Linked DNA regions of Homo sapiens: all the other regions are linked to region 1. The links come from fine-mapping of genetic effects on gene expression. A gene starts in region 1. Each other region holds a variant in brackets. All regions are shown on one strand. Distances are between the middles of the regions.

Region 1 (7,480 bases):
GGCACCACTGCACTCCAGTCTGAGCGACAGAGCAAGACTCCATCTCAAAATAAAAATAAATAAATAAATAAAAATAAAATAAAATAAAAATAAATAAATTATGAAGGACTTCGTACCAGTTGGTAACACCTGCTAGCCTCCTGCTGCCCACCCCCGCTGCCGGGTCATCCCCAGGAACCATCCACCCCTCCAAGACAGCAGCCTGGCTCAGTTGGGGCCTTCTAGGACATTCCCCCAGCACTATGGCCAGTGTCCTGGCAGTACTAGTTGTTAAATATTTGAATATTTGCACTGGATATATGCCTTCTTTTAAAAAGCAGTACCTAGAAGTCACAAATTGGGCACTTGTTTTTTTAAATCTCATTGGCCACAGTGAAGTCCCGTGGCTGCAAGGGAGGTTGGAATGTGTAGCTTTTATTTTAGGTGGCCATGTGCCCTGCTAGAAATAAGGGGTCTCATTAGTAACTATCAAATCAAGGAGAAGGGGGTGAATGATATTAGAGGGTGTAGCAGACTCTGCCACAGGGGAGGCTAAATAGGTGCTGAGAAGCACAGAGGGCTTGGTGAGCTTGGCTGCACTGTTGAGTGCTCCATCAGTCCAGGGGAGGTGGGGGTATAGGAGGAGAAGTCAGAGGTTGGGAATTGGTGGGTGATGGGAGAGGTGTCCCTGGGACAGCCTGAGCCTGCCTTGAGTGACACCTGAGGTCTCATTCCAGGCACAAGGACAAGTGCAGGCTAGAGGGTCTGAAGCCAGAGGTCTCGAGTAGGAAGATGCTGGAGGGAGAGAACCTGTCATTGTTTGAGACAGGGTGAGGGGTCAAGGGAGGCTTCCAGGGCATTAGGGGGCTCCAGGGTTGCTGTTTAGGGCACTGGAGTGGAGCCTTGGGGCCAAGCAGGTGGGCTGGGCCTCAATGGTAGATATGTCTTATCTCCTTGGCTGTCTTGGCCGGAACTTTCAGTTGTAGAAAAAGTAACAGATGGAGGCCATCTGGGGCCACAGGGAACATCATTATTATTATTTGAGATGGGGTCTTGCTCCGTTGCCCCGGCTGACAAGCAGAGGTGCACCACTGCAGCCTCAACCTCTTGGGCTCAAGCCGTCCTCCCGTCCCATAGCCTCTGGAGTAGCTGGGATCACAGACCTGTGTCGCCACACCTGGCTAATTTTTGCATTTTTTTGTAAAGACAGGGTTTCGTCATGTTGCCCAGGATAGTCTCCAACTCCTGGGCTCAAGTGATCCTCTCACCTTGGCCTCCCAAAGTGCTGGGATTACAGGCATGAGCCACCATGCCCGGCTGGAAAATTATTAAAAGGGTCTGACAGGTGGGGATTTCAAGAGATCTCAGACATGAAAATTGGGGCCTCATGCAGAACTGAGATCCAGAACTGGAAGGCCATTGAGAAACCTTAAGCGTGGCTCACATTTCTAAGGAAAAATATCTTTTCAGTTCCTTGAAGACTTGAGCTCCCAGAGGGTGGTAGTGGAAGGGATTTTCTTTTCTCTTTTAAAATTTCCTATATTAATTTTGTTTTTTAAAAATTGCAATGTGGACATTTCCATGAGTGAAATAATGCAAGATGAGTTAATCCAAAGTCAGAATTTCCCCCCTACTTCCAATTCTCTGTTCCCCTCCTGGCTGAAATCCTGCACTTGTGGGAGGGAGAGGGACAGGGTGGAGGGCCATGGCTGCCCGTGCATCCTCTCTTTGGGGTGCGGCAGGCTGCAGGATCTTTTTTTGTTTGTTTTTGGGGTTTTTTTTTTTTTTGAGAGAGTCTCGCTCTGTCATCCAGGCTACAGTGCAATGGTGCGATCTCAGCTCACTGCAACCTCTGCCTCCTGGGTTCAAGCGATTCTCATACCTTAGCCTCCCAGGTAGCTAGGATTACAGGCGCATGCCAATACACCCAGCTAATTTTTGTATTTTTAGTAGAGATGGGGTTTCACCATGTTGGCCAGGCTGGTCTCGATCTCCTGACCTCAAGTGGTCTGCCCGCCTCGACCTCCCAAATTGCTGGGATTACAGGTGTGAGCCACTGCGCCCGATGGGATCCAGGATCTAGAAGCTCTCCACCAGTTCTGCCATCCTCTCTGGGAAGTCAGCAGCAGGGCTTACTAGCAGATGGGGTTTGGCCTCTCACTCTGCCCATGTTTCTTGGGACCCACGTTCCTGGAAGACTTGCTGCAGCCTAGCCCTTGCTCCCTCCTCCTCCTGTTTCAAAGCTGCTTCAGTACCGTTGCTCTGTCCAGCCAGTTTCCACAGTCATCTCTTCATTGTTCAGCACTTGGGATCTTTCCAGCTTCCATGTTTCTAAAGGGCCCTTCTGTGAACACTTCGGACAAAATATTCCTTCACTTCTGGAGTATTTCCCTGAGGGTACATAGCTAGGAAAGGCATAAGAGAGCCAGAGGGTTTGAGGAGCTTCACAGCTCTTGTTGCCTACACGCAGATGGTTCAGAAGGTTTTTTTTTTTTTTTTTTAAGAGGATTTAAGCGTCTACTGACAAGGTAAAAAAATTAATAATAATCTACTTATTGCTTTTATATTCTTTGTTAAAATTCTGTCCTCATGGGGTTCAGGACGAGGCGGATGAAGCAGCATATTACTGTTGAGTTACAGGTGAGGAGATGAAAGGCAGCAAAAGTTTCTCTCAAAAACACTGACATATTCCTCTAGGTATGAAGGAGGAATATTTAAAAAAAAAAAAAAGGAGGGGTGTGGTGGCTCACACCTGTAATCCCAGCACTTTGGGAGGCCAAGGCAGGCAGATCACTTCAGGTCAGAGTTTGAGACCAGCCTGGTCAACATGGTGAAATCCTGTCTCTACCAAAAAATACAAGAAAACTAGCCAGGTGTGGTGGCGTGCACCTGTTATCCCAGCTACTCTGGAGGCTGAGGCAGGAGAATTGCTTGAACCTGGGAGGTAGAAGTGGCAGTGAGCTGAGATCGCACCATTGCACTCCAGCCTGGGTGATAGAGTGAGCCTCCATCTCCAAACAAAAAACAAAACAAAACAAAACAAAACAAAACAAAAAAAACAAGTCCTGGTTCAGGCTCTGTTGTTAACCAGCCCTGAGATGTCAGTAGCTCTATAAGATGAGAGGGGATGATCTGAGGTCTCTGAGCGTCCTTTTGGCTTGGGGTCCTGTAACCTCTGCATGGAGCACTGGGATGCTTTGCTCCTCCATCTGCAAGGAGCTGAAGGATGGGGGATTTGTCCTAGAGCCCCAGCTCCCTTGCTTTTTTTGTTTGTTTTTTTTTTGAGACGGAGTTTCGCTGTTGTTGCCCAGGCTGGAGTGCAGTGGCACGATCTCGGCTCACTGCAAGCTCCGCCTCCCGGGTTCACGCCATTCTCCTGCCTCAGCCTCCCGAGTAGCTGGGACTACAGGCGCCCGCCACATCGTGCGGCTAATTTTTTGTATTTTTAGTAGAGACGGGGTTTCACCCTGTTAGCCAGGATGGTCTCGATCTCCTGACCTCGTGATCTGCCTGCCTCGGCCTCCCAAAGTGCTGGGATTACAGGCGTGAGCCACCGCGCCCGGCTAGCTCCCTTGCTTTTAACCAGTTGTTGTGTGGTCTGCCCCACGCTTCTGCCTGGCCTTGGGAAGCCCAAAGGTGGAGCAGCCACGAAGTCTCCATCTGGCCACTGAGGCCGACCTGTGAGGCGTCCAGTTGAGACCACATCTTGTCCCAACTCACTCAGCTGCCTCACATGGCCCACTGTGGTGCATGGGGCACACTTCCCCATCTGGCTCCCCAGAGGAAGTCAGAGCTGTGGTGGGGGCTGGGGGCACTTAGGGAGATTGCAGGGGAGCAGAACTGAAGGTTCTGAGGCCTTAGTCCCTGGGGTTGTTCTCCAGAGCGGATTGCAGATTGGAGGAAGTTGGAGGAACTGTAGGTTTGCCCTTCCTGGGTCAGGAAACCTGGCTTCGGGCCAGGTTCTATCTCTACCTGTTGTGTGACCTTGGATAAACGTCTTGCCCTCTCCTAGGCTCAATGTCCCTACAGGTAAATGACCTCTAAGTGCCTGCCCTAAGGGGCTAAGATTCCCCTCCTTTCCCTGCCTTGCGGTTGGCAGGTTCTTATCCTTCTGGAGAGGGTCATCATCATTCTCTGTTCAGGTCCTGGCAGGGGCAGCCACAGGCAGAGGGTCTTTGGGTCTTAATTTCTGAAGGCTTCCATGTCACATAAAACGTTGATTACATAAATTTGTTATGCTTTTCTCTTAAGCTGTCTCGTTACAGGAGTGTTGGTTGTGACTCTTATGATCTCTTATGATGGGTGAGGAATGGTATTACATCTTTAACGGTACCACAATGTGAGGCTTAAAAGTTTTTTGTTTTTTTTTTTTTGGTGATGGGAATCTCTCTCGCTCTGTGGTCCAGGCTGCAGTGCAGTAGTGCGATCTTGACTCACGGCAACCTCCACCTCCCGGGTTTAAGCAATTTTCCTGCCTCTGCCTCCTGAAATAGCTGGAACCACAGGCGAGCGCCACCACGCCTGACTAATTTTTGTATTTTTAGTAGAGACAGGGTTTCACCATATTGGCCAGGCTGGTCTTGAACTCCTGACCTCATGATCCGCCCGCCTCGGCCTCCCAAAGTGTTAGGATTACAGGAGTGAGCCAGCATGCCCAGCCCAGACTTGCCTTTGACCAGGTGCCACCACCTGCCCCCACGTGCCCCTGGCCAGGACTGAGCCCTGTACCCTGTTACACGACTACTTATTCTATGTGAAACCCCAAGCTATTCTATGTGAAACCCGCTACTACAATGGGCTAATTTTTTTGTATTTTTTTTTTTGTAGAGATGGGGTTTCACCACGTTGCCCAGGCTAGTCTTGAACCCTCCGCCCGCCTCGGCCTCCCAAGTGTTGGGATTACAGGCGTCAGCCACCGCGGCCGGCCAACAATGTGGAGATTTAAAAGGTATTTTACATATATAATCTCTGACCTATTCAATTAGTAGGGCTTTTCTTTTATGACCTTTCCCTTCCCTTTCTCCAAGTTCTTCCTCACTCCTCCCCATAGCCCTTCCTTTCGCCCCTCCCATTGCCCCCTCCTATTGGCCTCCCCTTCGCGCAGGCGCCCTCAGAGGCGCTGAGTCAGGGCGCTGTTGAGCTCGGGCAGGCCCGGATGGGGCGGGGTTAGCGCCTGCGCTCTGGACGGCTTTGGGGCAGGGCAGATTTATATCTGCGGGGGATCAGCTGACGCTCCGCATTGCAGACTGCGGAGTCAGACGGCGCTATGTACGCCCTCTTCCTCCTGGCCAGCCTCCTGGGCGCGGGTAAGCCCTGGGACCCTCATCCTGGGGAGGAGGTGCCTCGCAGCGTCCATCTGCCCCAGAATGGGCTGTGCCGGGCCTGGCCCCTCTGCTCCCCCTGCCCTAGTTGGCAAGGGGGCGCGCGCACTGCGCAGGCGCGTTCGCTGGCTTTCTCTGGCTTTCTCTGGGCGGCTGGGGGCTGCGGGGGGCGGGCTGCGAAAATGCCCCCGGGAGGACGGCCCAGGCCCTGGGCAGCATCTCCTTCGGGGCTCGAGTGGGTTCCTGCGCGGCTGGGGCCCCGAGGCCTTCCCTCAGGCTGCGCTTCCCACTGTGGGGGTGGGTGAGTCTTGTAGGGTGACCCCTTGGGCAGCTGTGTTGTGCCTGTGCTGGGCGCACGTGATCGAGGTGGGCTGGAGCCCCGTCCCGCAGGACACTTTGGCCGTTGGCTTCAGTTGCCTGTTTGTAAGGGTAGCGAAGCTGCAGGAAGCACATGTGTATCATCTATATTGACGTTTGCATATGTATTTACTCTGGATTCTAGGTGTTGACAAAACGAGTCAAACTCTGTAAAAATATTTTGAGATTTATTCTGAGGCAAATATGAGTGACCATGGCCCGTGACACAGCCCTCAGGAGGTCCTGAGAACATGTGCCTAAGGTGGTTGGGATACAGCTGGGTTTTACATATTTTCGGGAGGCACGAGACATCAATCAAATACATTTAAGAAATACGTTGGTTTGGTTCAGAAGGGCGAAACAACTCAAAGCGGCGGGGGGCTTCCAGGCCATAGGTAAATTTAAACATTTTCTAGTTGATAATTGGTTGAGTTTATCTGAAAACCTAGAATCAATAGAAAGAAAGTATTCAAGTTAAGATAAAGGATTGTGGAGACCAAGTTTTATTGTGCAGAGGAAGCTCTCAGGTAGCCGACTAAGAGAGCGAGCACGTTGTAAAATATTTCTATGGAAATGAAAGGGTGACTGGCTCTTAGTTGATTATCTCCTGGATCTGGAGAGGAAGGAAGGAAAACATAGGGGAAAGGGGATTCTCTATAGAATGTGGATTTTTCCCACAAGAGACTTTGCAGGGCAATTTCAAGGTATGGCAAGGAAATATATTTTGGGGTTAGATATTTTGATTTTTTTTTCCTTGTCTTATAAAATGTTATGCCAGAGTCAGATTGGAAAGTAAGTCACGATATATGGGGTCAAATAAAACCCATCTGATGAGAGTTTATGGTTTGTAGGGTATGATTCCTACACCCCTTAGATAGGAATTTGGGCAAGCTAAAAAAAATCGGAGCTTAATTCTCATAGGTATTGAAGGCGATATAGGGTTTTCTGGTCCAGTTATTTTGCCATGGGGTCCTCATTTCACTTGCTTTGAAATGTCTTGCATCTGGGTGCGGTGGCTTATGCCTGTAATCCCAGCACATTGGGACACCGAGGTGGGAGGATCGCTTGAGCCTAGGAGTTGGAGACCAGCCTGGGCAACATAGCAAGACCCCACCTGTGAAAAAAAGAAAAAGAGAAAAGAAAGTCTTGCACGCTATTGGCCGTTTTTTTTTTGTTTGTTTGTTTTGTTTGTTTGTTTGTTTTTTGAGACGGAGTTTCGCTGTTGTTGCCCAGGCCGGAGTGGTGCAATGGCGTAGTCTCGGCTAACTGCAACCTCCGCCTTCCGGGTTCAAGCCATTCTCCCGCCTCAGCCTCCCAAAGTTCTGGGATTACAGGCGTGAGACACCGCACCCAGCCCCCACCACAATGTCTGTTTTTTAGTAACTATATGTAGTTTAAGGGCTGGCTGCCATTTTTAACCTAGCTACCCAAATTTTAATAAAAAGTAACAAAGTGGATGACAGGGTTGATGCAAAACCGAAGAAATGAGTTAGCTTTCAGCAGCTCTCAAGAATGTATCTTGACCCTATACGAAGCTCTTAAATTTGTTTTACTTGTACACAATGAAAGATGATCTGCTTATAAAAAAATCATTTTGATTTTATACTCAAGCTTATACTGCAGTTATTCCATGGTCTGTATAATAAACTAATGCTGGTCTCTAAATTTTTTATACTGATTCAGGGCAATTTTTTTTCTTTCTTTTTACATTATCCATTGTTCTTGTTGACGTTGAGTCACTCCTCACAAGACCCTTAAGAGTTCTGATTCATTCACATCACCCAAAAGGGACTCAATCGTGTCTCGGGAAATATAAAATCCAC
Region 2 (5,000 bases), 36 kb after region 1:
GCCCCACTATGCTCGGACACCCCCAGAGCTGGACCTGTGTCCCCACTTTCCTTTATAGTGTGATCAGTTTGTGGCAGAGTACGAGCCCGTGCTGATCGAGATCCTGGTGGAGGTGATGGATCCTTCCTTCGTGTGCTTGGTGAGCCTCACTGGGTGGTGTGGTCCTCTCGGGCAGCTGTAACCTGGGGGGCTGCAGAGACCCGGAAGGGTTGCTCTGAGACTTGGCCGTGGGGTGGAGTCTCTGGGTTCTGCTGCGGGAGAGCCAAGAAGGTAGGGAGCCAGCCCCCCAAGCCCCATCGCTTTCCTCAGCAACCCTGATGTTCTGAAAGAGCGTGGTGGAGCTGTGATCCTAGCTCCTTCTGGAAACTGTTTTCTTAGTTTTGAAAGCGATACATCGGGCAGCTCTCATTCTCCCCCTTTCTTCTTTCCTTTTCTCACCATATAGAAAATTGGAGCCTGCCCCTCGGCCCATAAGCCCTTGTTGGGAACTGAGAAGTGTATATGGGGCCCAAGCTACTGGTGCCAGAACACAGAGACAGCAGCCCAGTGCAATGTGAGTAGCTCAGCAGACAGTGTCACCAGCCTGTCTTGCCCTGGGGTAGCCTGTGTGAGAATCCTGCTTTAATGGGAACCCAGTGATCAACTCTCCACCCTGCTTTTATGTTATCAGAAAGCTGAGGCCCAGAGAGGTGGTTAGGCTTACTCATGGTCCCCTAGAAAAGACAGGGTGAACTACACTCTTGTAGTGAAGGGTGGGGTGGATTTTATTTATTTATTTTTTTTAGTATTTTTTTGCTTCTGCTTTGTTGCTTTTGTCTTCATTTCCCTTGTGACAGTGTCAGACTTGTACAAGGTCACTCCAGGGATTGTACAAGGTCTGTGGGATTCATTGCCCAGAGCTTTGCCCAGGTCCTGTCCCCCGGGAACATGTTTGCCCTTGCTGAAGCCGGGCCCGAGTCCTCACTCAAGGCCCTGAGAACTGGCCCCTGCCCAGCAGCCCTAGGGCACTGTGGCCCTGGCCTGGCCTGGCAGCCACCAGTTGGGTGACTTGTGCTGCTTCCCTGGGTGGGGATGTTTGGTTCGGTCCCTGTTACTTAATGTTGCTTTGTGCAACTTTTCCTTCCTCACCGGGCTTCCCTGTGACCATGTCAGTGGCGGTTGTGTCATTTCGGACCACTGCAGGGAGGGGCAGGGGGCCCCCATTCTGGCCATGTCCAGCTCTTTCCTCCAGCTAGGCTCCAGCCCATCTCCACCGCCAGCCCCACCCCACAGCTGGTTCTGCTGCTGTCCTGGGGAAATGTGGGCCTGCTTCTCAAGGCCCGAGCTGGTGTGTAGCCTAACTCAGGCAAGGAGGTTCTGCCTGGGAGTTAGTGTGCAGGCTGCTAGCAGGACGCTGGGTGCCGGGTGCAGGTAGATGAAGGGTCCTGAGCCCTGCCTGCGTGGGTACTCATCTGCAAACTGCTGCAGGCATCTGCTGCTCTGGACTCGTGCCTTAGAAGTTCCCAAAACTCTGATGGCCACGTGTTCCCTGTTTTTAAGTGAGATCCTGTCCTGGGTCTTCAGCATCTGGTGCCATCCAGCTGACCTAGGACAAGAGAACAGGTCCTGTTTTGGGGTGATATCTGATACATTGATGGGCCGGGAACGGAGTTTTTCATCCGAAGACTAAACTCAGCTTCCTCTCTCCTACCAGGCTGTCGAGCATTGCAAACGCCATGTGTGGAACTAGGAGGAGGAATATTCCATCTTGGCAGAAACCACAGCATTGGTTTTTTTCTACTTGTGTGTCTGGGGGAATGAACGCACAGATCTGTTTGACTTTGTTATAAAAATAGGGCTCCCCCACCTCCCCCATTTCTGTGTCCTTTATTGTAGCATTGCTGTCTGCAAGGGAGCCCCTAGCCCCTGGCAGACATAGCTGCTTCAGTGCCCCTTTTCTCTCTGCTAGATGGATGTTGATGCACTGGAGGTCTTTTAGCCTGCCCTTGCATGGCGCCTGCTGGAGGAGGAGAGAGCTCTGCTGGCATGAGCCACAGTTTCTTGACTGGAGGCCATCAACCCTCTTGGTTGAGGCCTTGTTCTGAGCCCTGACATGTGCTTGGGCACTGGTGGGCCTGGGCTTCTGAGGTGGCCTCCTGCCCTGATCAGGGACCCTCCCCGCTTTCCTGGGCCTCTCAGTTGAACAAAGCAGCAAAACAAAGGCAGTTTTATATGAAAGATTAGAAGCCTGGAATAATCAGGCTTTTTAAATGATGTAATTCCCACTGTAATAGCATAGGGATTTTGGAAGCAGCTGCTGGTGGCTTGGGACATCAGTGGGGCCAAGGGTTCTCTGTCCCTGGTTCAACTGTGATTTGGCTTTCCCGTGTCTTTCCTGGTGATGCCTTGTTTGGGGTTCTGTGGGTTTGGGTGGGAAGAGGGCCATCTGCCTGAATGTAACCTGCTAGCTCTCCGAAGGCCCTGCGGGCCTGGCTTGTGTGAGCGTGTGGACAGTGGTGGCCGCGCTGTGCCTGCTCGTGTTGCCTACATGTCCCTGGCTGTTGAGGCGCTGCTTCAGCCTGCACCCCTCCCTTGTCTCATAGATGCTCCTTTTGACCTTTTCAAATAAATATGGATGGC[G/A]AGCTCCTAGGCCTCTGGCTTCCTGGTAGAGGGCGGCATGCCGAAGGGTCTGCTGGGTGTGGATTGGATGCTGGGGTGTGGGGGTTGGAAGCTGTCTGTGGCCCACTTGGGCACCCACGCTTCTGTCCACTTCTGGTTGCCAGGAGACAGCAAGCAAAGCCAGCAGGACATGAAGTTGCTATTAAATGGACTTCGTGATTTTTGTTTTGCACTAAAGTTTCTGTGATTTAACAATAAAATTCTGTTAGCCAGATCTGGGCCTAATGTTTCTGTGACCCTTCAGCTGGAAGAGTTTGTTCCTCTCTGATGAGCTCTGAGCCCATGACACCTTTGGGGCCCAGCACTCCCATGACCCATCTTGGCCAGAGAATGAAAGCAAAGTGGATAAAGGAAGATCCCACCTCATCCTCCCCAAGACTCAGGGCCAGCAGTAGGTCAGGCGCACCTGAAGGTCGGCTCTGCTCTTCACCTGCCCCTGTCCCTGCTCCCTAGAGGCCAGAGTCAGAGCACGTTGCCAGTTCCTTGAGAGTTGCCTTGATTTTTAAACAAACCATTCCAGAAACTTGTAGTGAGTACCAGTTAAACAAAACCAAGGGGAAACTATTGAGGGAATAACTTAATTTAAAAAAGGAACACACACAAACACTCCACATTCAAAACCGGAGGGAACATCAGTCACTTCTGTTTATAAGCTGGGCACACATTTGGGAAGCCAGTGAAATGGAGAGAATGCTTGTTCATTGACATTGACTTTCTTGTCCACGTGGGGATGCCACCTCCACCTGGACGTCCAGCAGAGAGGGATGTGGCGGAAATGTAGCGAGACTTGGACTGGAGTCGGGTGTCCGGCCAGCAGGGGATGTCCGCGCTGGGCCTCCCTTGCGCCTGCTTAGCCGGAGGGGATGGTGCTTGCGGGGTGGAGCTGGGAGGGAGGAGGGCCTGTTTGGCCTCTTTCAGCTCAGCCTGAGCCAAGCTGGTCCCCAGACTCTTGGGCCCCAGTGACCCTCCTTACCTTGTCCTTAGATGCTTAACATTTTTGTTTGGTTTTCTTATAAAAATAACAGATCTTATGAAGGTAGAGGTCAGATGCTGAATGAGCGTCTGGCAAAAGTGGGATCTGAGCAGCTGATGCGGGCTGCCAGGGCCAAGCCAAGGTTGTCCCCAAGGCCTGGCCTTGGAGGGTCCCCCCCGACCGGCCCTGTCCCTGCCCTTGCTCCCTGGGAGGGGACGGTGGATGGGTGCTGCTCACACCCACAAGGCTTCCCTGTCTAGTCACAGCTCTGTGATCTCCAGGGGGGTCTCCATGATCACGTCGCGAAGTTTGTGCAGGGGTGTGGATTTGGCGGATTCTGTGCGGGCGTTGCGCTCGAAGGCAGTGGCCTCGGCAGCGGTCAGCGTCTCCAGCGAGCGGCCCAGGCCCTTCTGGTCTTCCTCGGGCAGGCTGTTGAGGTCGGTGGCCAGCAGCGTGCCCGTGCTGCCGTGCACCACATGGATCCCATCGGGCCCCTTGAGCTCCACTGGTGGCTTGTGGCGGAAGCGCAGGCTACCCTGCCCTGGGCTGTGGTCTCCTGGCTCCTCGTCCAGCTCAGTCTGTATCAGCTGCAAGAGGCCGGGACCCCCACATGCTCAGGGCCATGCCCAAGGGGTGAGCAGGTGGATGGCCCCAGAGACCCACTGGCTATGTGGCTGAACCTTGGGCTCCTACCGCAGCAGGCCTGTCAGACTCTGTTTCTCAAACTGCCTGCAAAGGGGAATCATGAATGCTTAAGTTGCTGCAGATGGGTTCTTGGGAGGATTGGCTTCTTGTGAAAATCTGTGTGTGTGTGTGTGTGTGTGTATCGGCTTCTTGTGAAAATTGTGTGTGTGTGTATCGGCTTCTTGTGAAAATTGTGTGTGTGTGTGTGTATGTGTGTGTAGACAGAGTCTCGCAGTGGCGCGATTTTGGCTCACTGCAATCTCCACCTCCTGACTTCAAGTGATTCTCCGGCCTCAGCCTCCCACGTAGGTGGGATTACAGGCACGCCATGTTGGCCAGGCTGGTCTGGAACTCCTGACCTCAGATGATCCACCAGCCTCAGCCTCCCAAAGTGCTGGGATTACAAGTGTGAGCCACCGCACCTGCCCTTTATTTATTTAGAGACAGGGTTTCTCTCTGTTGCCCAGGCTGGAATGCAGCAACGTAATCAAAGCTCAGTGCAGCCTCGGACTCCTGGGCTCAAGTGATCCTCCCATTTCAGTTTCCTGAGTAGCTGGGACTATGGGCGTGTGCCACCACATCTGGCTGAGAATCTTTAATTTTATGTATTAACTTTGGTGCTCTATAAACATCCTGGGATGCAACTGTGGTATCTGGGTTTGTTGCCAAATTGGCCTCAAGCAGA
Region 3 (7,480 bases), 38 kb before region 1:
AATCACATACATCTCCCAAAAGATGACATGTCACTGAACAGTGTCAAAAAATAGCATTTGTTAGCACTGCCATCCATCGCATCAGAAAAATCTTTAAATATTGAGAAGTTGTCAAGCTTGTGGTGGTGTACACAAATTTTCCAAAATTCTAATTTTCCCTTGAAAGCTCCAAGTTCCAACTTTATCATTGGCAACAAATGCTTCAGTTTCTTGAAGGGACAGGCTCACTTTGCTCATTTATGAGAAAATGTCTGTCTGCCAAATGCCCAGATCTGAATACCCATCATGTGTCTGTTCGTCGTTCTTTCCCGTATAAACAGTGTTCTCGGCTGGGCGCAGTGGCTCACGCCTGTAATCCCAGCACTTTGGGAGACAGAGGCAAGCAGATCACGAGGTCAGGAGTTCGAGACCAGCCTGACCAACATGGTGACACCCCCCATCTTTACTAAAAATACAAAAATTACCCAGCCTGGTGGTGTGTGCCTGTGATCCCAGCTACTCAGGAGGCTGAGGCAGGAGAATTGCTTGAACCCAGGAAGCGGAGGTTGCAGTGAGCCAAGATCGAGCCATTGCACTCCAGCCTGGGTGACAGAGCAAGACTCCATCTCAAAAATAAATAAATAAATAAATTAATTAATTAATTTAAAAAATAAGATAAACTGTGTTCCCTGGACCAGAGGCTCGCGTGGCTCCACCTCTGACAAGTTGTTTCTGCGAGCCAGTCCCCTGCTCTGGAGCAGGCGCTCTGTGTGCATCCCTGCTTCATCACACAGGAGATCAAAAGGGTATGTACTTAAGTGACACAGGCATATTTTGTCCCCACAAGTGCTTATCTAGGGGAGTGCACAGAGACCTGCCTAGTCTGTGGCCACTGCCTTGCTTCCTGAAGTTCCAGCAGTTTCACCCATAGTGGCTTTTTTTTTTTTTTTTTTTTTTGAGGCTGGAGTGCAACGGCACGATCACGGCTCACTGCAGCCTCTACCACCCGAGCACAAGTAATTCTCCCACCTAAGCCTCCCATGTAGCTGGGACTATAGATGCGTGCCACCATGCCCAGATAATTTTATTATTATTATTATTATTATTATTATTATTACTTGTAGAGACGGGGTCTTGCCATGTTGCCTAGGCTGGTCTGGGCAAACTCTGCGGCTCAAGCTATCTGCCCGCCTCACCCTCCCAAAGTGCTGGGATTACAGGTGCGAGCCGCTGCACCCTGCCCACAGTGGCTTTTATGTCACCAATGCCATCACAGTGAAAAGGCAATACTGTCTTAGGATTGTGAGGGAAGGGTCTTAGGACTCCGGGACTCAGTGGGCAGCTGCTCACATTGCATGGGAAGCATCACAGATACCCAGCCACCAACGCCGATGGTGGAGGATGCTGTTTTGGTGACCTGAACCTGGGAGAGAAGCCGCTATCAGTGCTGTGATTCTCTGAAATGGTTAAACTCTTGGCGAAGTTCCCTACAAAACAAAGTCCAATCTTCCATTCATTTGTGTTCTCAGAGTATGTTTTAAAATATGCAAAAAGGCTGGGTGCAGTGGCTCACACCTGTAATCTCAGCACTTTGGGAGGTCGAGCCAGGTGGATAACCTGAGGTCAGGAATTCAAGACCAGACTGGGCAACATGGTGAAACCCCGCCTGTACTGAATATACAAAAATTAGCTGGGCATGGTGGTGCACGCCTGTAGTTCCAGCTACTCGGGAGGCTGAGGCACGAGAATCACTTGAACCCTGGAAGAGAAGGTTGCAGCGAGCCGAGATTGTGCCACTGCACTCCAGCCTGGCAACAAAGTGGGACTCTGTCTCAAAAATAAAAAATAGGCTGGGTGCCTGTAATCTCAGCACTTTGGGAGGCCGAGGTGGGTGGATCACCTGAGGTCAGGAGTTCAAGACCAGCCTGACCAACATGGTGAAACCCCATCTCTACTGGAAATACAAAATTAGTCAGGCGTGGTGGCGCATGCCTGTAATCCCAGCTACTTGGAAGGCTGAGGCAGGAGAATCGCTTGAACCCGGGAGGCGGAGTTTGCAGTGAGCCGAGATTGTGCAATTGCACTCCAGCCTGGGTAACAAGAGCAAAACTCCGTCTCAAAAAATACAATAAAATAAATAAAAAATAAAATAAAATAAAATATTCAAAAATACCTCATGTTTAGGTGTGAAATGGAGTTTGGTTTTTCAGTGACACGAATATGTGAAAGTGTCTTGTCTCACCCCCAGCCCTCAGCTAGGGTTGCCCCAAAAGTGGTGGCAGAGGAGTTCCCACAAGGGAGTGCCTGAATCATCCTGAAGGGGGGCCAGCTGGGATTCCAAAGAGAGAAGCACGAAGCGCCGGGGTGATGAGTCCAGGCTTTTATTAGGGGAGCTCACTTCCACAGGGCCGTGCACATCCTCAGGCAGCCAGGAGAGAAAGGGAGGTCCACCTAGGTGTGTCCACAGCCATGAGGTCAGGGTGTGGAATTTTTCTGAGGCTTTAAGGAATTGGGCTCAAGCCTGGGGCCAGTTTTGTTCAGGGTTTTGGGCAATAACCTAGACTTCTTTATCAGTGCCTGGGAATGTTCGAGGCCCTGGTTTGGGTTCAAGCCTGCTGGGAAGCCCTGCAGCTGGTTGGGTCATGAAACAGTCAAGGCACTCTAGATTTTCGGTCAGGACACGGAAAGAAAGTGGGACAAACTAGGGGACGCTACAGAAGGGACATTTGAAAATCAGAATACTTTGGACAGTTTTTTTGTTGTTGTTGTTCCAAAGGGCGGCTCTGAGCATTGCAGGATGTTCGGCCGTCCTGGTCTCTGGCCCAAACACCAGCAGTGCCTCCCACATCCCTGCAACAACCCAAACCGTCCCTATGAGTACTCAAAACGCCACGAGGCTCCAGCTCTGCCTGCTGGAGCCCCAAGGATCTAACCCCTCTGGAGCCAAGGACATGTTGCATGCCAGGGATCCCTTACTGGGTGACTGAAGCAGGGTTAGGGTCAGGGGAGGGACCCCAGTGAGCAGTTGATGAGCTCAGGTCGGCCATCTTGTGTGGTGCTGCTGGGAGGGTACAGGCCCAGAGCTGGGCACTTGCCGGGGAGACCAGATGTGTGTGCTGAAAAGTATCTGCATGATCTTGTCTTCAAGGAGCTGGTGAATGTCAGGCCTGGAAGGAGTTGAACAGCCAGGGAGACAGCAGGGCATGTGGCGTTTCCAGACCCTAAACCTGCTGTCAGCCTTGGGATGAGACCTCCCCAGGTGCAGCCTCACCCCTCCAGGGCCTGCATGCTGCGTGCTCTGCTTTTCCTTGGGCCTTCACATATGCCGCATCCTCAGCCTGCGGCACTCTCGCCGACCTGCTGTGTGTGCCTGGTGGACTTCCCTCCGCTTCTCACTTCAGATACTGCCTCCTCCAGGAAGCTCTCTCTGACCCCCTCAGTCTGAGCTGAGTGGCCTTGCAGGCCCTGTACTCACCCACTGAAGCATTTACCCCTCTCTATCCCTATTTGTGGGTCTCTCTCCCTAGTAGAGCTGGGAGTCCACAGAGGGCTCTAATTCTCTCTTGAATTCCCAGGCCTAACATAGGGCTGGCAACCATGGTCAGTAATATCTGTGGGCTGAAGGAGAAGGCAGAAACATAGAGTGGAAGGCAGGGAGGTGTAGGGAGACAGAGTTTGAGGGCAGGAAGGTTTGAAGGGTCAGAGGAGGAGGCGCCTGTGGAGGGTTGCAAAGACAAGAACGGTGCCAAGCCATGGCACGGAGGGAGGGACAAGGGCTGAAGGGAGAGACGCAGAATTCATGGTAGGGCCGGGCCCCAGGGACTCTAGGACAATGGCCCATGCCACTAGCCTGAGGAGTGTGCCCTCCGAGTGAGGACAAAACAAGAAACCATTACCGCGGAAGTGCACAGGCCCTAAAATGTCTAGAGTGCTGAGTTCACAGGACCCTTAAAGATCAC[A/T]AATCTGAGCCCGGTGTGGTAGCTCACGCCTGTATTCCCAGCACTTTGAGAGGCCAAGGCAGGTGAATCACCTGAGGTCAGGAGTTTGAGACCAGCCTGACCAATATGGTGAAACCTCATCTCTACTAAAATTACAAAAATCAGCTGGATGTGGTGGCGTGCACCTGTAGTCCCAGCTACTTGGGAGGCTGAGGCAGGATAATTGCTTGAACCCAGGAGGCAGAGGTTGCAGTGAGCCGAGATTGCACTACTGTACTCCAGCCTGGGCGACAGAGAAAACAAACAAACAAACAAACAAAAAACAAACCACTAGTCTGATTGACCATTGTATAGATGAGGAAAACCAAGGCCGAGTCCAATGTGACATTTCTGGGGTCAAGGCCAGTCTGCCCCTGGAGAATTTCTTGTCCATAGAGGCTTAGGGTTTCTTATGGCAAAATACTTCCCCTACTGCACTCACTTGCACTCCAATTCCCGCTACTATGCATTTCTTCAGCTTAAGGCACCTAAAGCAGAAATGTCAGTTTCAGATCCCACAGGGCTCCCATGGCTGGGTGTGGACACTTCCCATGGCTCAGTGGAGCATGCATGACCCTGCAAGAACAGGTCAAACAGGCCGTGTGATCCCTTGATCTGAACTGTTGGCTACTAACTGAAATTATGTTTAAAAACCAGACATGATGCCTTTAAGACTGTGCAAGTCAAGCAGATCCTTTAGGGGACAGACTCAGTGGCCAACTGTCTGGGAGGCCCAGTTGGGACTTCCCATGATTTTGGAAATGGACTTCCTCATTATTTTGGAAATCCCCCAGAAGGGTATCCTTGGAGCCTCTTAGTCACCGATACCAACGGTACCATACTCAGAGATGTTTTCCAAAAGGAGGCTCAAATTGGGAGGGCTTTGGGGGGCTGGAGGATGGTAGGGAGGGAGGAGGGGAGCAGAGGGCAGAGGGGAAGCTGGCCTGTACAGGATTGAAAAAAAGAGAGAAGGAAAGTTGCTTCCTTCTAATGTGCTCATTTATGCCATTCATACAAAATTCCTGAGTTTGTTTAACTCCTTCATTTTATTTTTATTTTTTAATCACTTTTTTTTTTAAAGACAGGGTCTTGCTCTGTTGCCCAGGCTGGGGTGCAGTGGCAAGATCTCCGCTCACTCTAACCTCTGCCCCCCGGGCTCAAACGATCCTCCTGCCTCAGCCTGCAGGTAGCTGGAACTACAGGTGCCACCACACTGGGCTCACCTCCTTCATTTTAGAGCTGAGGAAATGGAAGTCCAATAAAAGAGTGACTTGCCCAAAGAACCAGCAGGTGGTGGCAGGGCTACCCTGTGGTAGGGGTTGGGGGCAGAGGTAGAATCCAGGTCTCCAGGCTCTTTCCTCTCTCAGGAAGAAGGTGAGGGTGAGTGTGCCCGGCGCTGGCCTCAGCACCACACAGCTTATCTCCATTTTACAGGGAGAGGGAAGAACTCTTACAAGGTTCCACAAGCAGCCGGTATCGGCATGGATGAGACCCCCTCAGGTTGGATAAGTTCGCAGGAGAGACAATTTCCCATGGGCTGGGAGAGACGGTTGTTTCTTGGAAGAGATGGCCCCAAAGGGTGGACAGGAAGGGATAGAGAGAGAGAAACAGAGAGAGGAGAGGGAGAGAGAGAGAGAGAGAGGACACACAGAGAGAGTTAAAGATCAATAAACAGCGGGGAAAGGTGTGAAGTGACAACTGAGCCCTTCCACAGACTCTCTCCCTAGTTCGACTGCCCCCCACCCCCACCCCCAAGGGACCCACTCGACGCTGCCCGCGCATGCCCCAACCCGTTCGTGCCCCCGCCTGGCCGCGTGCAGTCTCGCGGATGCGTCAGGCCACGAGTGCGCCACTGCTCGCCCCGCGCTGCGTCCCAGCAGACCTGCGCGCCTCTCCTCTGCCCCGGTCTGCGCCCTCAACCCCGCGCTTCCGCTATATTCCGGAGGAATCTGAAATCAGATTCAGATGTGAAGCGCGGTTTCGGATCCTCTTTCGCTTCTCTATCTCGAGAAACTTGAAACTGCGTCCTCTAGGATTGCATCAAACTGCATCTTGAGCGTGGAGGAGGACTGCTGAGCCCCACGGGTTCGCCGGGCTGGAGAGGTCTTGCGCAACCTGAGGGTTGGGGAGAGAGGGGTGTTAGCGGAGGGAATGGGCCCTGACGGCCCTAGAAGCTTCCCCGAGCGCCTCCCACCTCCAGCGGACTTGCTGTTAAAAACGCAATTAATGCGTCCTGTGAGTCAGAATAAGGATGACTACTTATGGAAGAGGAAGGAGTGACTGGGGTGGGGCGCGTGGAGAGACTTCTGCTGTGGCTGGCAAAGTTCTTTTTCTTGGTCTCGGAGGCAGTTCACTTTGTAGTAATTAGTTAAGCCGTACATCAGAACCATTGGATTCTGTATCCGGGTTTTATTTTTACAATAAAAATACGTTTAAAATAATCAGTTACAGTTATAAAACTGAAATTCTTCCCATTCTAATTTTCTTTCTCTTTTTCTTCCTTCTTTCTTTCTCTCCTCCTCCTCCTTTTTCTTCTTTTGTTGTTGTTGTTTTGTTTTTTATTTTTTATTTATTTATTTGAGACAAGAGTTTTGCTGTTGCCCACGCTGGAACACAGTGGCACGATCTGGCTCACTGCAGCCTTGACCTCCTGGGCTCAAGCGATCCTCCCTCCTCAGCTTCCCGAATAGCTAGGATCATAGGCGTGGACCATCACACCCGGCTAATATTTTTTATTATTTATGTAGAGACAGGGTCTCGCCATGTTGCCCAGGCTGGTCCTGAACTACTGGGCTCAAACGATCCTCCTACCTCAGTCTCCTAAAGGGTTGAGATTACACGTGTGAGCCACTTTGCCCGCCTGAGCAGCTTTTTAAGTCAGGCATTGAGTCAGTATCTCTGGGGACTGAGAAGAGGTATATATTTTTAAAGTTCCTCCAGTTTTTCAAAAGGGCAGCCAGGATTGAGAAACACTGGGCTATCATGGTGGGATTCCATATTAAGATTTTGAAAGCCACAGGCCTTGAAGAAGGAAGCAGAGGCTCCCAGAAGCCCAGGTGGATGCTCTGCCTGAGCCCTCCCAGCAGGCGAGGTGCAAAGCTGGCCTGGAGCAGGAACTCCCACTGCCCACGCCAGGGCTCTGCCCTCAGACCACCCTGAGTGTGCCTCCTTCATGCAAATTTCTCTGTCTTCAGATTGGAGATCATGGGGTAAAGATATATGTATATGTGTGTGTGAGAGTATATATATATATGATATATATATATATATGATATATATGATATATATATATAAAAGATATATATAAGGTGTATATATATAAAAGATATATATAAGGTATATGTATATATAAAAGTATATATATATTTTTTTTAAATTAAGATTTAGGCCAGGCATGGTGGCTCATGCTTGTAATCCCAGCACTTTGGGAGGCTGAGGCAGGTGGATCTCCTGATGTCAGGAGTTCGAGACCAGCCTGGCCAACATGGTGAAACCCCGTCTCTACTAAAAATACAAAAATTAGC
Region 4 (5,000 bases), 55 kb after region 1:
CCCATGGACTTCAATCATGCTTTTTTAGTGTGGAGAGGACACATCTCAGATGTTGTCCCACAAAGGGCTCATTCCAAAAGACTTGGCCACTTCCTTAAACATCTGTTGAGACAGAAAGGCCACAGTCTACCAAATGTCTGGGACTCTGAGAACAGGGTTTGCTGACTTGGCTAAAGAACCTCTGGGGATGCAGATGTCCAGGCGACAAGACCCAGAGGGATTACTACAATACTTTTGGTGGCTGCTCAGTCTCTGACCCTGGGTCCTTCCCACTTCCAAATTCCAGGCCCTCCATCACTGCTCACCGTGGTGGGGTTGATGGCAAACTTGCTCTCTCCATCTCCAAGGCTGTACTCAATGAGTGCAAAGTTGCCTGAGTCAGCATCAGTGGCAGTGACTGTCAGGATGATTGTGCCCACAGGCACATCCTCAAAGACAGCCTCCTGGAGCCCAGGGGGCAGGGAGAGAGAGTAGGCCAAGGTCAGTCCCAGAGCCCGAGCACAGCCCTAGAACTCACTGATGCAGGCATCAAGCTGCTCGTGGGCTGGGCACTCCCAGGGGGCTTAGAGGCTGGCAGGGTGGGAGAGGAAGATGCCCAAAGACCCCAAGGAATGGGCGCAGGTCCTGGACCCAGCCTGTGGCCTGGCCACCCACCTGGTAGGAGGGCTGGTCAAAGATGGGGTTGTTGTCATTGATGTCCACGATTTCCAGGTAGACAGGGATCTCAGCTGCCCGGGGCGGGGACCCGTTGTCTGAGGCCCTCACGGTAAAGTTGAGCCAGTGCACCTCCTCGTAGTCCACTGTCCGGTTGGCAATGACCTTCCCTAAGACACAGAGGCTCCCACTGCCATTTTGGCCACTCCTCATTCATGGCAGCTCTCCAAAGTATGAGGAGAAAGACCTGGACTCCGAGGGGCAGCTGTGGTCACTTGAAGGAGGGTGGTCAGGCAGCACCACCCAGTTGCAGGGCACACGGCAGGGAGGGACTGGTGTCCAGTTTTTCTTATGGAGGGTGAAAAAGCTTCTCCCAGTCACAGGAATGAGCATCAACTAGCCCAGGACCTGAGACACCTCCTTCTTGGCCTTCCTGCTCCCTCGGTGGTACTAATAGTAGGAGCTTGGGTGGTGGGGTATCCCAGGTTTCCGGCAGACATCAAGAGGCTTCCATCCCAACCCAGGAGTAAGCACTCTGTCCCTTCCCCTGGTTTGGGCATCTGGAATCTGGCATGGAATGCTGGCCATCTTGGATCTGGCCCAGTCCACTGAGGAGCCACAGAGGGGCTGTGGTCTCTCTTGGGGACTAAGCAAGCAGAGATATATGTCCCCCAGCCCTCCTCTGACAGATTTCTAACCTACCTGCCGAGGAGTCCTCCAGCTGGACATACCCTGGGGGCACCAGGTCCAGCAGGGTGTAGGTGACCAGCCCATTAAGGCCCTTGTCAGGGTCCACGGCTGCCACAGCAATGAGTGTGGTCCCAGGGGTGGCCCCCTCCAGGATCCGCTCCATGTAGTAGGTGATCCCAAAGGGCTTGAACTGGGGCGTATTGTCATTGACGTCCAGGACGTTGACAGTCAGCTTGGCTGTGGTGGAGGCAGGGAGTGAGGGAGAGGGGAAGGACACTAGTGTGGCTGGGCCAGGCCTTCCTTAGCCTCAGCCAAGCCGGGTGAGCATGGCAGCATCCCACAGCCCCCCAGAGGCTGCCTGAGGATTGACCTGACCCTCAGGCTGCAGCACAGGAGGCTTTCCAGTGGTGTGCTCACTTGCTGTTCCATAAGAGGAAGGGCTAGGTGACCCTGGTGGAGCCCTCGGCCCTTCCTGTGCCCCGGTTTCCTAAACTGCTCAATGAGAAAGGGCAAGATAATCTTTAAGACCCTAGATCCTGTCTGAGCTGTATGTATCCCCTCTATGTAACCGGCCTGGGCCCTTAACCATCTGAGCCTCTGACATGGAAGAGATGACCAAGTCTGCCCTTCCTTCCGGAAAATGTGGGCTTCTGGGCTGTGAAGATAAGCAGTCATCATCTGCCAGGCCTGGCTTCCCCTATAGCAGCTGTCTGTACCTCATGGCTGAGGCAACTTGAGGCCACCCCATCCCCACTTCCCCCACTCAACTCTCGCTCTGCCCACACAAAATCCACCCCTCTGGCAGCCCCCTCCCAGCCCACGCCTCAGGCTGCAGGCAGGATGGCCTGGGCCCGATTGGCAGAAGGTAACACTGGGCCCCTCCGTTCTCCACCGTAAGTGCCTGCACCCCCAAAGCAGTGTCTGTGGCCTCAGGTTACCTCCCCTCATTCTTTGCTTCCTTTGTGCTAACCCTGTGGCTTCCTATAAGATCATAGGGTTCCCATCTCACATCCTACCCACACCCTGGTTACCAGTTCTGCTGGCTGAACCTAAGCCTCTGTCTAACCATTTTTTCTCAATCTGTTCCAGGCTCTACCAAGCCTCCTTCCTACTCTCAGCCTGGGGGTTCAGATCACACACAATTCTGAGCTTCTGGATCCTCCACTGCTGAGCTCTATGTAGCCATCACCACCCTGGGCCTCACGGTGGCTGCCACCTTTCATGCCTCTTGTGTTGCCTGACTCCTGGCCCCCAGAGCAACTGGGTCTTGTTGCTCCCTCCCTGGGGACAGACCAGTGCCTGTTCCCCACCTGCCCCCTGCCCTGATTGGCTCTGAGTGACCAATGAGAGATGTCTGCAGGGAACCTTACCATTTGGCACACTGACAGAGCGCTCTGGTAGGTCGCTGGCATTGTCAATCACTGAGAGAGTGACCTCATAGGTGGCAACCAGCTCCCGATTCATGGGGGACTTCACCATTACAGATCCTGTGGACCAGACCAGGCCAGGTTCAGCCTGAGAAGAACCCCCTAAAATCTGCCCTTCCCAGGGGTGCTCCTGGCCAAACCCTCCCAATCCCCACAAAGGATGACGGTCCCCAGTAGAATCTGGGACTTGTGGCTGGGGTGGGCCCACAGCCTCCTCATAAGCTTGGG[T/G]CACGTGGCTCTGCCCCTCCCATGATGCTTACTAAGCAGGTGATGTTGGGGAAGTTATGTCACCTCTCTGCACCTCTGTGTCCACATTTGTAAAACTAGATAATTACACTACCGACTGTCAACCCATCCTTTTCTCAATACCCTACTATTTTGAGGATTAGAAAAACAAAATGAGTTTCCATTTGTAAAGTACTTAGAACAGTGCGTGGCACACAGAAGCTATGTAACTGCTTGTTTAAAAACTGCTGTATTCCTTAACAATGCAAATGTACTTAACACTACTGGACTCTACAATTAAAAAGTGGCTAAAATGGTAAATTTCGTTATGTGTATTTTATCACCATTTAAAAAATGCTTAGATTCTAGGGAGATCAAGTTTAAAGGAAAGTCATGGTAGCTGAAAAGCCCTGAGGGGTTCCCTGGAGGGGACAGTGGTGGGACCGTCTGGATACTTCAGGCCCATCCCTTTGTCTTGATTAAATAGGGAGTGACATGGGCTGATTGTGGGACAGGAGCATTGGTTCCATGGCAGTCCTAGCAAGGGGTTTCCTTCTGTTCTACCCACTGCCTCCCAGAGTCCCTGCCTGCTCCCCAAATCAGAGAGGAACCCCCCAGAAGCATGGGCGGGGACTGGACAGACCTAGTTTGGCTGACCTCAGTGCTGCGTTTCTTGGGACCTTTCTTGTTCCTGCCTGTTAGAGGGCCTGGTGGCTTCTCCTCCCATTGGCTTCATCCCAGAGTGAGACCTCCTCTCCCTCTCAGGTACAGGGGTATCTGAGATTCCCTTCCCCCTTGGCAGATCCCCCTGCTGGGCTTCTGTCTTCCGTGGGTCCCCAGCCATGGGGTAGTCACTTACCCTGGGCCGCCTCCTCCTCCTCCTCCTCCTCCTCTTCCTACTCTCGCTCCCTGTCCCCCAGGCTGGGGAGCGAGGATGGGGAGAGGGCGGCTGCATTCAGTCTGCAAAGGCTGGGCCACGGCCTTGGCCCAGGCCCCACAGGACAGGAAGGGTGGTGGGGGTGTGGTGGGCATGGAGGAAGGCAATGGGGTGAGGCAGAGAAGAGATGAGGTGGGAAGTGACAGAGAAACAGAGCTCAAACCTGTGGGCCTGCCAGCCATGAGGAAGAGAGAAGAGGGTTAACATCAGTTAGTTCAGGGTGCAGCAGGGATGGAGCAGAGCAGGGCAGGGAGGATGGTGGGGACTCAGAGCTGACGGGGTGGGAGGAGGGAGGGAGGGGTGGAAACAGGGAGTGGGGAGGGGAAGAGGCACTGGGAAGGAAACCAGGGGAGCAAGTGGAAGCCCATTTGGAGTGGAGAGCTCAGGGGCTGAGGCTCTGGCAAGAAGAAAAGGTAGCAAAGTGGGCAAGGGAGGAGTGGAGGGCTGAGGAGGAGGGGGCAGAGAAGACACTGGAAAGAAAAATAGAGAAGAGAGTCAGCTGGAGGAAGGGGGAACAGGAAAGAGAAAAGCAGTAGGGGATTGAGCAGAGCCTCAAGTTGAGTAGGGACGTGGAGCAGCTCTCCATGGTCCTGACCAACCCATGCAGCCAGGAATTTTGCTAACCTGGGATGTAGCTGGTTCTATCTAACTTCTCCTAGTGCTCATGGTTTTTCCTTCTTCTGTTTCCCTTTGGGCCTCAAATGCAGATTGAGTTTATCATGTTCTTTGGCTCGCTGCACACTATGACCACTGGCACTTCTCTTGTTTTATGTGTGCGTCTACTCCCTTTCATTCCCATACTCATCTCTCCTTCCCTTCTCCCCTCAGGCAGTCATTGTAATGTATTGAAGTATATTTTTTGTTAATAAAAGTATTTCTGAAAATCATGTATTATTTTGTATGTATTTTACATTTATGGAAATGGTGCTGTGGCATATATCTCATCCCATTTATTATCCTTTTCAGTAAATACTTATTATTAGGATCCATCTACATTGCTCTGTGTGTGTCTAATTTATTGCTTCTCACCGCTGGCACTGCTGGCTGGTACCCCCATGATGCACACC

What was found. PIP is the estimated chance that this variant, and not a neighbour inherited with it, causes the effect.
Region 2: its variant is fine-mapped to the expression of PSAP in whole blood (TOPMed, PIP above 0.99).
Region 3: its variant is fine-mapped to the expression of PSAP in whole blood (TOPMed, PIP above 0.99).
Region 4: its variant is fine-mapped to the expression of PSAP in whole blood (INTERVAL, PIP 0.94).

Annotation. Positions count from the first base shown.
Region 1 is chr10:71,848,987-71,856,466 of GRCh38, reverse strand. It overlaps PSAP (prosaposin), which reads left to right and starts at 5,216. Exons shown (of 14, transcript NM_002778.4): 1 at 5,216-5,285. The coding sequence starts at 5,246. RefSeq lists enhancers at 5,005-5,535, 5,536-6,066, 6,458-6,957.
Region 2 is chr10:71,814,170-71,819,169 of GRCh38, reverse strand. It overlaps CDH23 (cadherin related 23), which reads right to left. Exons shown (of 70, transcript NM_022124.6): 70 at 3,223-4,218. The coding sequence ends at 3,892. It overlaps PSAP (prosaposin), which reads left to right. Exons shown (of 14, transcript NM_002778.4): 12 at 59-139; 13 at 446-553; 14 at 1,694-2,872. The coding sequence ends at 1,729. Among named protein-coding and RNA genes, the nearest start is that of MIR7152, 26 kb to the right of the region's middle. The variant G/A (reference allele first, on the strand shown) is at 2,620.
Region 3 is chr10:71,887,440-71,894,919 of GRCh38, reverse strand. No RefSeq gene overlaps it. Among named protein-coding and RNA genes, the nearest start is that of LINC03139, 13 kb to the right of the region's middle. RefSeq lists a silencer at 5,753-5,842. The variant A/T (reference allele first, on the strand shown) is at 3,939.
Region 4 is chr10:71,794,935-71,799,934 of GRCh38, reverse strand. CDH23 (cadherin related 23) reads right to left here. Exons shown (of 70, transcript NM_022124.6): 49 at 2,715-2,831; 50 at 1,357-1,581; 51 at 655-824; 52 at 306-443. Among named protein-coding and RNA genes, the nearest start is that of MIR7152, 6.7 kb to the right of the region's middle. The variant T/G (reference allele first, on the strand shown) is at 3,000.